Homo sapiens: one gene and its partners. The protein of the gene in region 1 interacts with the protein of each later gene in a pairwise test. Each region holds a gene or a part of one and is shown in the gene's direction. Other genes may lie near its edges.

What was found. Proteins that work in one complex are often made in the same cells at the same time.
Region 2: the proteins of TPP1 (region 1) and ASB6 interact in binary tests that used the Homo sapiens proteins (3 or more experiments, as listed by UniProt).
Region 3: the proteins of TPP1 (region 1) and ZBTB38 interact in binary tests that used the Homo sapiens proteins (3 or more experiments, as listed by UniProt).
Region 4: the proteins of TPP1 (region 1) and FBXL4 interact in binary tests that used the Homo sapiens proteins (3 or more experiments, as listed by UniProt).

Annotation. Positions count from the first base shown.
Region 1 is NC_000011.10:6,616,623-6,620,558, reverse strand, and holds the start of TPP1 (tripeptidyl-peptidase 1 preproprotein), read left to right. Parts: upstream 1-1,136; 5' UTR 1,137-1,158; coding exon 1,159-1,175; intron 1,176-1,291; coding exon 1,292-1,363; intron 1,364-1,643; coding exon 1,644-1,783; intron 1,784-2,782; coding exon 2,783-2,933; intron 2,934-3,130; coding exon 3,131-3,258; intron 3,259-3,405; coding exon 3,406-3,584; intron 3,585-3,699; coding exon 3,700-3,898; intron 3,899-3,936. UniProt on the Homo sapiens protein: Lysosomal serine protease with tripeptidyl-peptidase I activity. May act as a non-specific lysosomal peptidase which generates tripeptides from the breakdown products produced by lysosomal proteinases. Requires substrates with an unsubstituted N-terminus.
Region 2 is NC_000009.12:129,636,629-129,639,151, reverse strand, and holds part of ASB6 (ankyrin repeat and SOCS box protein 6), read left to right. Parts: intron 1-492; coding exon 493-579; intron 580-694; coding exon 695-1,362; 3' UTR 1,363-2,523. UniProt on the Homo sapiens protein: Probable substrate-recognition component of a SCF-like ECS (Elongin-Cullin-SOCS-box protein) E3 ubiquitin-protein ligase complex which mediates the ubiquitination and subsequent proteasomal degradation of target proteins.
Region 3 is NC_000003.12:141,375,004-141,378,503, forward strand, and holds part of ZBTB38 (zinc finger and BTB domain-containing protein 38), read left to right. Parts: intron 1-3,500. UniProt on the Homo sapiens protein: Transcriptional regulator with bimodal DNA-binding specificity. Binds with a higher affinity to methylated CpG dinucleotides in the consensus sequence 5'-CGCG-3' but can also bind to E-box elements (5'-CACGTG-3').
Region 4 is NC_000006.12:98,871,491-98,874,946, reverse strand, and holds part of FBXL4 (F-box/LRR-repeat protein 4), read left to right. Parts: intron 1-505; coding exon 506-669; 3' UTR 670-3,456. UniProt on the Homo sapiens protein: Substrate-recognition component of the mitochondria-localized SCF-FBXL4 ubiquitin E3 ligase complex that plays a role in the restriction of mitophagy by controlling the degradation of BNIP3 and NIX mitophagy receptors.

The DNA of each region.
Region 1 (3,936 bases):
GCAGCCATGGGACTGGTTTGCTTAAGTGAAGTGAAGGTAATGCTCACTGGGTTTAATGAGATGAAGAAATGGAAGGTTAGGGTGTTGAATGGGTCTTTTACCTAGATATTTTGATCATCTAGGTCAAATGATCGCAGGAGTTGGGATGGACAGAAAGGTGAAGTGCCATAATCTTCAGTGTGGGAATATAATCTATAGGTTAATGGAAGCCAGTGGCCTGTAGGACAACAGCAGGAGTAGAGGGATCTATCTAAAAAGTATTGAGGTCAGAACAAGGGATTTCACATGAGTATTGGATTAATGGTTTTGGAAGTTAAAATGACACTGCTGACACCATCTTCCATATGGATTTTTGGGGGGAAAAAAAGGAAGACTGGAAGGGAATTGAATCCTCAGGGTTTTAACTCTCATTGAAAATCCTCTTGTAATGACCCCAGTTGGAAGTAGTAAACTCAGACCTCCTTGTGGGCTTTGAGTTACCATTAGAAGAAGCAAAGGTCCGTTTCCATTTTATCCACCTGAGCCCACTAAACAAGATGCAAGATTCCTCCATGGCCCTTAGAACAAAGTTGATTTCCTTGAAAACCTTGGGAACCCATAATAAACAGGACCCCAGCTGATTGTAGATCTCCTGGGAAGCTACTTAAAACTGGAAACTGATTTGAATAAAAGGATCCTGGTCTTGCAAAAGCTTTACTCTGTTCATAAATGTAGTCGTAAAATGAAGACAAAATTGATAATATGGGGACATAAAGGATAAAAGAGGAAAAAAATTTTTTCACTGCAATCTTTCGAGGCAGATCACTTTTATATAAGTCTCCATATTGTAAATGCAGAAACCTAGGCTCTGAGAGGTTATTTTGCTGATGTCATACAGCTAGGAAGAACCCCAGTCTGTGGGTCTCTACAGCCCACTCACTTGTGGTGATTCCCAGGGGACCAGGCTCAGGACGCAGGTGGGGAGCCCTGGGCTTACTCAGTGCTTGACTGGCCAGAGGGGAGAATCCGGGTGGCGGCCCCACCCTTGCCTAGCATTTGGGACCACCCATGCAAGGGAGGAGCCAGTACCGTCACTAGTTACTAGGCAGAGGGGTAGTGGTGGTGGAATATAGAGCTCATGTGATCCGTCACATGACAGCAGATCCGCGGAAGGGCAGAATGGGACTCCAAGCCTGGTGAGAAATTGAGAGGGCTCGGGAGAAAGGGATCACGTTGGAGGGAGCACACATTGGGAGGGTGGGAACACAAGGACAACGTAGCTCCCACTGAAACCCACCTGCTGCCCCTACAGCCTCCTAGGGCTCTTTGCCCTCATCCTCTCTGGCAAATGCAGTTACAGCCCGGAGCCCGACCAGCGGAGGACGTGAGTTGACTTAGCACAGACTGCCCCCTTCCCCATACCCTGTTCTGCCTCCCACTGTCCTGGTCCTAGCTTCTCTCACCCCCGTGCCAGCTCCTAGTACGCACTCCATAGCTTCATCTCTATGTTCCTAGCCTCAGTCCCCTATCATTCACCTCATGTGATCTGTATCTGCTCCTAGGATCCTCCCCAAGGTCTCAGCTCCTAATCTGGAACCTTCCATGACCAATATTTTCCATCTCCACCCTAACCAAAGCCATGTCCCTGACCCCTGACCCTACAGGCTGCCCCCAGGCTGGGTGTCCCTGGGCCGTGCGGACCCTGAGGAAGAGCTGAGTCTCACCTTTGCCCTGAGACAGCAGAATGTGGAAAGACTCTCGGAGCTGGTGCAGGCTGTGTCGGATCCCAGCTCTCCTCAATACGGTGCCTTTTGGGACTGAGGACAGGATGTGGGATGCGGTGGAGGGACACAGGGCTGGGTTGGGCATGGGATGGCGATCATGTCAGAGCCTGCCAAGACACTTGTGTTCCTCAGGCTAGAAACCTAAAAGGGGATGTGGTTCAGTATACAGGCTTTATGATCAAATACGAACTCAAATTCTGACTCTGCTACTTACTAGCTACCAGGCATCTAGTACAACTTACGTTCCTTCCCCTACCCTCAAATCCATTCTAATTTCCTCTTTTGTTCACATACTAAGGCTGCCAGTTCTAACTCCCAAAGAGCCTTTGGATTAATCTCCTTCTTGCCGTCTTTTGTTACGACCAACTCCGTTATTTATTCCCACTCCTGGACTACTGCCCAGCTCCCCAGCTGATCTGCAGTCTCCTCCCTCCACCCCACCCCTCACTGTACTCCCCCACTCTGCTTCAAAACAGTCTCTCCAACAGTCAAAATGGATTGGTTCCTTCTCCTGGTTAAAGCCCTTCACAGCAGGGGGAGTGTGTGCTTGTGAACTGCAGAGGCTGGGGACGGGGCAGTGTGACACTAGTGTGCATGGCAGGAAACAGTGACTCACCATCGTGTTAAGCTTAAAATCAACAAGTATGCAAATTTGAGCTAAACTGAATAACTGGTACCGAAAGATTTGAAAACATTTACCGGACATAAGCTTAAAATTAAAATGGAAAATTTATATGTATTAACCTCATTCATTTTCATGATCATGGCAATACATGCTGTGGTGCGACATTTGCAACTTACTGGCCTTTAGGGTAAATCCATATTATTGGCCATGGCATTTCAAGTCTCTCCAGCCTTTTCTTCCTCTGCTTCCCAAGTACACCCTACACCTGCACACATAGCCCTCCTTTACCCTGTTCCAGGCTTTGGGAAGTCCTGATGTCTCATAGTTGAGGTCCAAAAGGGGGAGTTTGGGAAAGCAATGAATGAGGGCAAGTGCCTCTTCTGAATCCCTGCAGGAAAATACCTGACCCTAGAGAATGTGGCTGATCTGGTGAGGCCATCCCCACTGACCCTCCACACGGTGCAAAAATGGCTCTTGGCAGCCGGAGCCCAGAAGTGCCATTCTGTGATCACACAGGACTTTCTGACTTGCTGGCTGAGCATCCGGTGAGAGGAAATGATTGCTCCATGGAGGGCACCAGTCATCCCATCAGTGAGATGGATGGGAGGGAGTTGAGAGCTTGCTGGGGCTTGTGGGTGGGAGCTAATGCATGGGGAGACAGTGACTGACTGCCCAGGGATGCTCAGAGGTAGCTTCTTCTGTTCCGTTTTGAGCTTTCTGACCTCTGTTCTCTGACCTCCAGACAAGCAGAGCTGCTGCTCCCTGGGGCTGAGTTTCATCACTATGTGGGAGGACCTACGGAAACCCATGTTGTAAGGTCCCCACATCCCTACCAGCTTCCACAGGCCTTGGCCCCCCATGTGGACTTTGGTAACACCTATGGGGTGAATGGGGGTTGGGGCACACAGATCCAGGGGCTGAGGAAGTTTAGATGCCATTGGGGACTGGGGGTGGGGTGAGTTGTAAGGTGGGCATTACAGTCTATAAGATCTCCTCAAGCCTGACTTCTCCCTACAGTGGGGGGACTGCACCGTTTTCCCCCAACATCATCCCTGAGGCAACGTCCTGAGCCGCAGGTGACAGGGACTGTAGGCCTGCATCTGGGGGTAACCCCCTCTGTGATCCGTAAGCGATACAACTTGACCTCACAAGACGTGGGCTCTGGCACCAGCAATAACAGCCAAGCCTGTGCCCAGGTGAGCCAAGCAAAGAGCCCCAGGGTCCTCATAGCCTCCCCACAGTGTCCTCAATTCCTTACCACCCTGGGACTCACCCTCGGACCCACGATCTCTGCTCTGACTCCCTCCATAGTTCCTGGAGCAGTATTTCCATGACTCAGACCTGGCTCAGTTCATGCGCCTCTTCGGTGGCAACTTTGCACATCAGGCATCAGTAGCCCGTGTGGTTGGACAACAGGGCCGGGGCCGGGCCGGGATTGAGGCCAGTCTAGATGTGCAGTACCTGATGAGTGCTGGTGCCAACATCTCCACCTGGGTCTACAGTAGCCCTGGTACTACCAAGAGGACTGGACAGTGGGGAAGGGGGTGG
Region 2 (2,523 bases), on another chromosome or scaffold:
TGGGGGACACCCAGGGTGCCCCAGGACAACAGCTAGGTGGGCAGACTGGATGCTGGCCCTGGCTGGTGGCACAGCATGGCTGGGCACACAGGGATTCTGCTGACTTGCTGAGCTCAGAGGCTTCAGAGAGGCAGTGCAGTCATTGTCCCTGTGCTGGCCCTCAAGGGCCTTCTATAGGAAGAAATAGGGCATGTGTGCACTTAGTTTCCAAGAAACAATGGCTTCCCATTGGGAGAGGCCCAGCCAACATCTCAGGTAGCATCTTGGGGTCCAGAAAAATCCTACCTTTCCTGGCCTTTCCGCTCCCACTTCTCTGGGTGGAAAGGGAATGGCCAGAAGCCTGTCACCCTCAGCCCTCACCTGAGCTGAGAGTTGTCTCTGAAAGTTCATCTTCTGATCCTCTGAGTGTCTGGATTTCTGCCACCTCCTCTGGGTTGCCCTGACCTGGGCTTCCTGGCCTCCTGCTCCTCCTTGCTCTCCCTCCCTCCCTAGGAAAAACTGCTCTGCTCCATGCTCTGGCCAGCAGCGACGGGGTGCAGATCCACAATACTGAGAACATTCGTCTCTTACTGGAAGGAGGTGAGGCTGGCGCGCTCCTAGGCCTCGTCCTCTCACCCGCCCCTTCGATGTGTGCTGTTGCTTTGCCAGGGTTGAAGGCCTTCTCCCAGCATCTCTTGTTCTATGGCTCTTCTAGGGGCAGACGTCAAGGCCACCACCAAAGATGGGGACACAGTGTTCACCTGCATCATCTTCCTGCTTGGTGAGACCGTGGGAGGGGACAAAGAGGAGGCCCAGATGATCAACCGCTTCTGCTTCCAAGTCACACGGCTGCTGCTGGCACACGGGGCCGACCCCAGCGAGTGCCCAGCCCACGAGTCCCTCACCCACATCTGCCTGAAGAGCTTTAAACTGCACTTCCCTCTCCTGCGCTTCCTCCTGGAGTCCGGAGCCGCCTACAACTGCTCCCTGCACGGTGCGTCCTGCTGGTCTGGCTTTCACATCATCTTTGAGAGGCTCTGTTCCCACCCAGGCTGCACGGAAGACGAGAGCCATGCGGACCTCCTGCGCAAAGCTGAGACTGTCCTGGATCTCATGGTGACCAACTCTCAGAAACTCCAGCTGCCCGAAAACTTCGATATCCACCCTGTGGGCAGCCTGGCGGAAAAGATCCAGGCCCTCCACTTCTCCTTGAGGCAGCTGGAGAGCTATCCCCCGCCCCTCAAGCACCTGTGCCGTGTGGCCATCCGGCTCTACCTTCAGCCGTGGCCTGTGGATGTGAAGGTCAAAGCCCTGCCTCTGCCCGACAGGCTGAAGTGGTACCTCCTTAGCGAGCACAGTGGCTCCGTGGAAGATGACATCTGATAGGTCTCAGGCTACAGGAACGGGGGACACGGGCAGCTCAGGTCAGCCTGTTGGTAGATGCTGGGACAGCATTAGAAGAGGGTCTTTTTGATCTGGGAGATGAGACGGGATCCTTCATGAGAAAAGCCAGCCAGGTAGAGCCTGAAGCTGTGATCACTCCAGTGGTGAAGGGTGCAGCTCTGGTTCTTCCAGAGAGACTGCCCCCTTCCCTCCAGCGGCACTCCAAGTCCCCCCCATGTTGGAAAGAGGAACAGGGCTTGGATTGATGTTTATACCCTCTGAATTGGAGGGCAGTGCCAGGGCATTTGCAGAAGCTGGGAAGGACCAAGCCTCAGCACCCCAGGGCTGCGGGGCTCTTGTTGGCCGCACGTGGCAGTGCAGCTGGAGAGGAAGCCTGGGGCACGTCCTGTGCGGTGCCACCAAGGCCCCACCCCTGCCCCTTTTCCTTCCAGGTTCTGTTACTCACAGAAGTGTTTCTGGTGGGCTCTGCGGGAGAAGACACTAAGGGCCCCACAGGCTTGTTTCATGGTGTTGCAAGCCAAGCTGGCCCCTGCCTGTTCCTGTAGCTCTGGGGCCAGGTCAGCCGTGGCCCCACCTACCAGAACTGTGCTCTGCTGGCAGCTGTGCTTTTGCCAAACCCAGGGCCTCAGCGACCATGACTTCTGCTAAAAAGCAATCATGAGTGCGTGGCTGGGGACAGACCTCTCTGAAGTGTCTCCTGTTGTGAGGGGCTCACTTTGGAGCCACTGAAGAGCCGACTGTGCCACCCACTTGCGAGCCTCAGTCCCTTCCAAGCTGCACTGGTCATTGGGAATTGTGTAAACACCTCTGGGGATAAGCTGAGGTGACTAAATGATATATTTATATTATAAGATTAAACTGACTTTCTTGGCCTTAACAAGGTCCTTATATAAAATTTCCACCCCGCCCCTCCATAGTTCAGGATAGAGGCTCCCACAGCAGCCGGTAAGGAAGTGGGTGGCAGGTGTGAGGGGATGCTGTGTTTGGGGGGTTGTTTCCAAGTCCCTGCAAAGAAGCACCACTCTAGACTGGCAAGGGCCTCCACAGTGTGGAGGTCCCATTTTATTATTTTTTTTTTTCGAGACACTCTGTCACCCAGGCTGGAGTGCAATGGTGCAATCTCGGCTCACTGCGACCTCT
Region 3 (3,500 bases), on another chromosome or scaffold:
TCCCAATTCTTCTGCATTAATGCCTGAGAACTATTGACATGCTGCATTCAGTTCAACAAATATTCAGTTGGCAAACATTTATTAGACAAAAAAAATTAGGAAACTCTGAGCTAGTATGTCTATGCCAGAATTTAACTTAAAGTCTTTTTTTGGCTTCTGATTTTTAGATTTTCCTTTAACTGTAATATGATGTAGTAAAAAGATTATTAGCTAGGGAATCAAGAAACCATATTGTACACATGAAATCACTGAGGCCCATAATGGTTCATTTACTTCCTGGTGGTCACTCAGAGATTTAATGGCAAAGGTTGAACTAGACAAAGGGCCCAGAGTCACCCAACCTTTAGGTAAGAGACAAAAGGCGCCAATGAGAAGATTCACTCCTGAGGCAACGCCCTGCCTCAGCCAAGGAGCTCTTACCTGCCCTCAGATAGGCATGCCCGTACTTCAAGACACTCTTGGGCAGCCTAGACCTAGCAAGGGGCCCACGTGCCCATCTTGGTCACCTAATGGGGCCAGACTGTGGTGTGCCCTGATCCCTGAGGTGGTAGCACTGAAGAAGCTGGACCCAGGAGGACAGAGGGCAGCCGTGCAGGCAGCATCCATGTGATCAGCATCACAAGAGCAGAGTAGGAGGTGGGATCTGGGGTCAGAAACCAAGACAGCGGAGCAGGGTCAGGGCAAGTGCCAGACTAAAATATGTGGGCAAATTTGAGGTCAAGGCAGGGATGAGTTGAAAGGAAGACAAGCAAGAGCTAGAGGGGAACTGCTGAGGATTTGGCCTCAAGGATGGAGTCCCACTGTGTGACCTCACAGTCAGGGGAGGTACCTGCCCCAAGCCGTGCCTGCCTTTTTAAATCTGAAAGGTGCTGTGTGCTGGGCTGCCTTCTGACAGCAGGAGAGTAGGAGCACAGCCTGAGAGGCGGCAGGCCAGAGCAGGAGGAACCTGAAAATGGAAATTTAGGAAACAATGGAAAAAACAATTATAGCAACAAAAAACCATTTTCTTTAAACTCTCACCATCCTCTAAGAGGAAGTCTGACTATTCATCCTGCCTGCATAACCCTGCTGAAACCCATCAACCCACACCCACTGATCACCTGACAGTGTCTGACTGCCCGGCTTCCTCTCATCCCACCACCTCAATTTCCAGAGCCCACCAAGGCATCACTTGACTTTCAAGTTCTGCCTGGACAGACTGCTCAGCTCCCTACCCGCCCCAGTTCACGTTCAGGTTCTTGAAATCAACTTTAGTTTCCTCCATGCCTACATCTATGCTGATCCCCTGCAAAGGCACCTGGTGACACACAAGAGCCAGAACCCAAAGGAGCTCCTCCACAGGATCCTCCCAGGGCTTAGCCACCAGGGAATTTTGTTGATGATCCCCAAGCTTCACTGCCCCATGCAAGTCTCCATTATCTCAAGGTTATCCCTGTTCAGGATCACTACTCTCCTGATTCTTGGCCTCCTAGTCCAAACTCATGGCTCCAGGGTCATGATGAGTAAGAGTTCTGGAAAAGTCTACAACCTCCCTTGAACCAGAGGTACCTTGAATCAGATGGAGGGTGACTTTCCAAGAATGCCTGGGCCGGTTCAAGTCTTCACTATAATGTTTGCCTTATGTAAAACCCATCACCTTGTTGTCCTGCACAACTTTCTTGAGTGAAGCACCTCTGATACTCAGATGACATTCTAATTGCTCACGAGACCTGGACCCCTGGGCCAGGAAAGCCCATGTGGTGGTGACAGCAGTGCTTCCAAATCTCACCCACAGGAGACAAAAATAGGAGTTCCATGGCATCCAGACAAGGTGTCCACATGCTGCTGGAGAGTCTTGGGTGGTCACAGAGTACAAAGTTCAAGGGCAAAGATTGTTCAGTGGGTCCCAAGATTTGACAAGTGCTACTGGTGGTCCCACCCTTGCCTCTCTACATTGATTCCATGTCCCACTTCCTCTCACACTATGCTGATAACGATCTAACCTGAGAAATTAAAAGTATTCACACAGCCTCTGGCCAAAGCTACAGGAAGACCCTGGCCCAGGCAAACTCTGTTCCTGCCCCACAGCTGTCATTTCACCTGCCCTACCCCATGGGAGCATGTACCACTGGTATCAAGTCTTCCTGCTGGGCCAAGAGGCACTGCCTCAAAGAGGCCCAGCATCCCCAGATAGCAATGTCCCACCACTGCAGTCAGGAGCAACTGGGCAAACCCAAAGACTCAGCCCCCCCATCCAGAAAGACCATCCCATTTTCCATCGCCTAAGTGCCAGACAGCCCAAACTGCTGTGTAGACAGCTACCAGGAAAACTGGAGCAATGAGAGACATCTGAGGTCACCCCAGCTAAGCTCAGAAGGCCACAGAGCTTAACTGCCTTCTTGACTGTGGCCCATCAAAAGGAGCCCGACACATCTAGTAGATGGCTTAAATAAAAAATACTGAGGTTACCAAATGCTGGCAAACATGTGGGGACACTGGATCTCTCCTACATTGCCTGTAGGAATGTAAAATGGTACAGCCACTCTAGGAAACTGTTTGGCAGTTTCTTATAAAAGTTAAACATATACTTACCACGTGATCCAGCAATCCTACTCATGGGTATTTACACAAGAGAAATGAAAACTTATGTTCACGCAATAAACTTTACATGAACATTTATAGCAGCTTTATTTGTAATACCTAAAAACTGGAAAATAGCCAAATGTTTTTCAGCAAGTTAGTGGGTAACACACTGGTACATCCACACCTTGAAATACTATTCAGCAATAAAAAGGCATGTGCTCTTTACATACAATTCAAATGGATCACAAGGGCATTATGCTGAAAGCCAATCTCAAAGAGTTATATGCTACATGATTCCATTTAGAGAACGTTCTTGGACTGACAAAATCACAGTGATAGGCCATGCACGGTGGCTCATGCTTGTAATCCCAGCACTTTGGGAGGCTGAGGCAGGAGTGCCCAGGAGTTCGAGACCAGCCAGGGTAACACAGGGAGACCCGCATCTCTACAAAAATTTACAAAACTAGCGGGATATGTGGGCGTGCACCTGTGGTCTCAGCTACTTGAGAGGCTGAGATGGGAAGACTGCTTGAGCCCAGGAGTTTGAGGCTGCAGTAAGCCATGATTTTGCCATTGCACCCCCAGCCTGGGTGACAGAGCGAGACCCTGTCTCAACAAGCAAAAAAAAAAAAAAATTACAGTGATAGAGAACAGATCAGTGGTTGTCAGGATGGGTGTGATTATCAGAGGAGGAGCACAGGGAACTGTGGTGGTGACTATTCTCTATTCTGATGGTGATGGTCATCACTCCAGCCTGCACATGTGATACGTTGCATAGAACTGTAGACATACAGGTACACACACACACACACAGAGTGCATGTAAAAACTGGTAAAATCACATAAGACTGTATCTGCGTTTATTTGAACTATACCAGCATCTGTTTCTTGGTTTAGCCCAAGTACTACAGCGATGTAAGACAACACTGGGGGAAGGTG
Region 4 (3,456 bases), on another chromosome or scaffold:
TTCCAGCTCTGGGATTTCTTGAATCCTTGCTGCATTCATCAGAAAGGAACCCTGTGTAATTTTGTTGCTTCTTACTTTTAGCCAGGGGTGCTAGCAGTGTCACAGTAGTTATCATTGTCCACACAATTGATACTTTGTGAAGTCATATCGCACTTGCACATTTTACATCAAATGCATGGTGAAAACCATTTTGAACTGGGGTGACAGAAATAGGAAAGTCTGGAGGAGCTGATTTGAAGGGGTAGGAGGTAGGAATGAAGATAGTGGGTAGGATATTGGCAAGATTCAGGTCCTAGATGCTAAATTGGCTGGAAAATTCAACTTTTACTTTTTTAACAGAACCATTTCAATATGAAGTCATGTTTGAAAAAATGATTTTAATTTGTAAAGGGTTATTTTAAGTTCATTACAAACAATAAATCATGGATGGATTCATTGTTAGCACATTATATAAATGTTATACTTAAGGTGTTTTGTTTTGTTTTGTTTTGTTTCCCTTAAATAGGAACAAGAATGGTAAGTCCGGCATCCTTAAGAAAACTCCTGGAATCTTGTAAAGATCTTTCTTTACTTGATGTGTCCTTCTGTTCGCAGATTGATAACAGAGCTGTGCTAGAACTGAATGCAAGCTTTCCAAAAGTGTTCATAAAAAAGAGCTTTACTCAGTGACTTAATATATGTTCTGTATTAAAATTAATGTGCTTTGTTGGGGTTTAATTTTGGGATTGGTTTTGGGTTTTGTTTTTAGTTGTTTTAATGGTAAGAATTAAGACATTTGTAGATTTTAAAGAAAAATATGAAATTGTCCATTAAATCAAGTAAAAATGTGCACAAATGTTTTCATAAAATACTGCAAGCACTTCTCTTCAAGAATATGAGTGGATATTATTTTTACCTTATGTTAATCAGTGATATGCTTTAGTCAATAATATGATTGATAAAAGAATAACATGGAATCATGCTAACTTATTTTCAAAGGAACACTGAGCAATAAAGTATCGTGGCATTTATGCAAAAAAAAAAGTTAATTTTTTACACCTTCATGTAAGGATGTCTTATTAAGCCTGTGACCTGGCAAGTGTTTTGTTTGGTATGTACAAAATGGTCAGAGCTAGTTGGAGAATGAGACATGCTTTTCCAGCTGTTTGGTTATTTCTCTGGATTAACTGTTCAACTGGAAAATTTTTAGTTTTTCTAGCCAGGTGTGGTGGCACACACTTGTAGTCCTAGCGACACAGGAGGTGGAGGCAGGAGGATTACTTGAGATGGGATTTTGAGACTCTAGTGTACTTATGATTGCACCTGTGAGCAGCCACTGCACTCCAACCTGGGCAATATAGCAAGTCCCTTTCTCTTAAAAAAAATTGTAGTGTTTCCACTTTTCTTCTGATATTTTTGTCTATTTCACTACTGGATAATGCCAATATAAAAATTTGGGTATAATCAAGAATAAGAGGTAAACTACTAAATAAAAAAAGCTTTCCAACTGTTAGAAGCAGATGCCTTAACATTTTGTGAAAGGTAAAGTTTTGAGGTTTCTGAATTATATAAAAAAACATAAATGTGGAGATATATATTATATATACACATTATATATACATATTATAGATAATATATATCCACATTTATGATTTTTAATATATACATGTATATATTATATATTATATAATTATATATTACATTTATATTATATGTAATGTACATGTATATATTATATACATATATATAATTATATATATTATATAGAGAGAGATATATATCTTGCTAGGGTGTGTGGATGCTGGAATATAACGATTTTGCACTTAACAGGACAATGAATTTTGTTATACTACAGTTAATATTAGTTTTGTGTTCAAAACAGCTGTGCCTTTTCATGCCACAAAATATTTTCTGTCTACTTTCTGAGTAGCAGAATTAATTCATTTTTTTAACAAAACGATGTATGTCAAGTGTTCAGTAGTCACATGAGGAGAATGCTTCCTTTGTGCCTGGCACTGTTTCTTGTGCTTTGCATTGACTAATTCAATTCTCACAACAACCCTGTAAGATAAATGCCATTACTTACCCCCATTTACAGATGAGGAAACTGAGGCAAAGAAAGATTGAAGAATTTATTTATGATCATACAGCTGCTAGTGGCAGAGCCAACATATAAACCCAGGCCATCTGGCTTCTGAAGCATTGCATTAAACCTGTGCTTTTAGGTGTTCAGGGTAGCTTCTGGCTCTAGGGCAGAGGTCAGGAAACTTTTTCTATAAAGGGCCAGATAGTAAATATTTTAGGCTTTGTGGGCTAAGAGGTAAAACTGAGATTGTTATGTAGATACTTAAATAACTAGAGAGAAATAAAATTTGCACGAAAATTTTATTGACAAAATTCAAAACAATAATTTAGAACAATTTTTTTTGTAATACGGGTTTACTAATGAAAAGAATTAAATATTTACAGGGAGGATCAAAGTTAATGTTTCGTGTCATTAAAGTTGATTGTAAGTACTCATTTGTTAATGCTGATCTGTAATAAGATTTTATGTATTTTACTTCTGAAAATTCCTTGCAGATAGGTATTGTCAAATACTTACATTAATCCATGAGAATATGATTTTTGTTGAGCATATTCATCACTTGAAAGGTTACTTCTTCTCTGGATATTTTCCTTTTAGCATGTTATTACATTGCAGCTTAATCACTTCCAATTGAAGACTAGGCAGAAGCTCCTCAATTGCACTGTTAAATTGATTTTGAAAAATGGAAATTTCCTTTACATTTGCAAACTCCAAAAAATACTGCAGGCACTATGGTGTGAGCTACAAATTTGTGTGAGAGTGGAGATCTCGCTTCTTTGTCTTACCTTTTGATAGCACAGGAAATGTGTAAAGCAGCTTGTTGTTACTTGTAATTCAAACAATGTTGTCATCAAAATGACTTATGTTTTGCTTGTAAACACGTTTTGCCTTGTAATTTTGGCTTGAATTCATTTCAAAATTTTATTAAGTCTTGAGCAAAAGCTAAATTCCAAAGCCATTCAGTGTTCCATAATAGTGATTGAGGACATGTCTTCTTTTTCAGAAAAATGTCAATATCAGCCCTGAACGCAAAAGCTCACAATAGAACTAACACTATTATGCCAATGTGGTTGGGCAAATCAGCATATTCATCTTCTGTATCTGACAAAAGATAACTGAACCATTGATGTTTAATCTATCAGAAACTATGAGAGCAAATGAAGTTCACCATTGCTACCAGTAGTTCAGTAATACAAAATTGAATCAAATATATCCCACAAAGTACCTGCTGATGAATAATACAGTAAATAACCATAGATTTTAAATACCTTCTTACCTTTTCACAGGCTTTATAAATTTGACAAACGTAATCATTTTGCTTCACACATTTTTAACACCACCAGTTGTAACACATCTTAGCAGATTCTACTTCAGGTTGCATGAAATTTGTG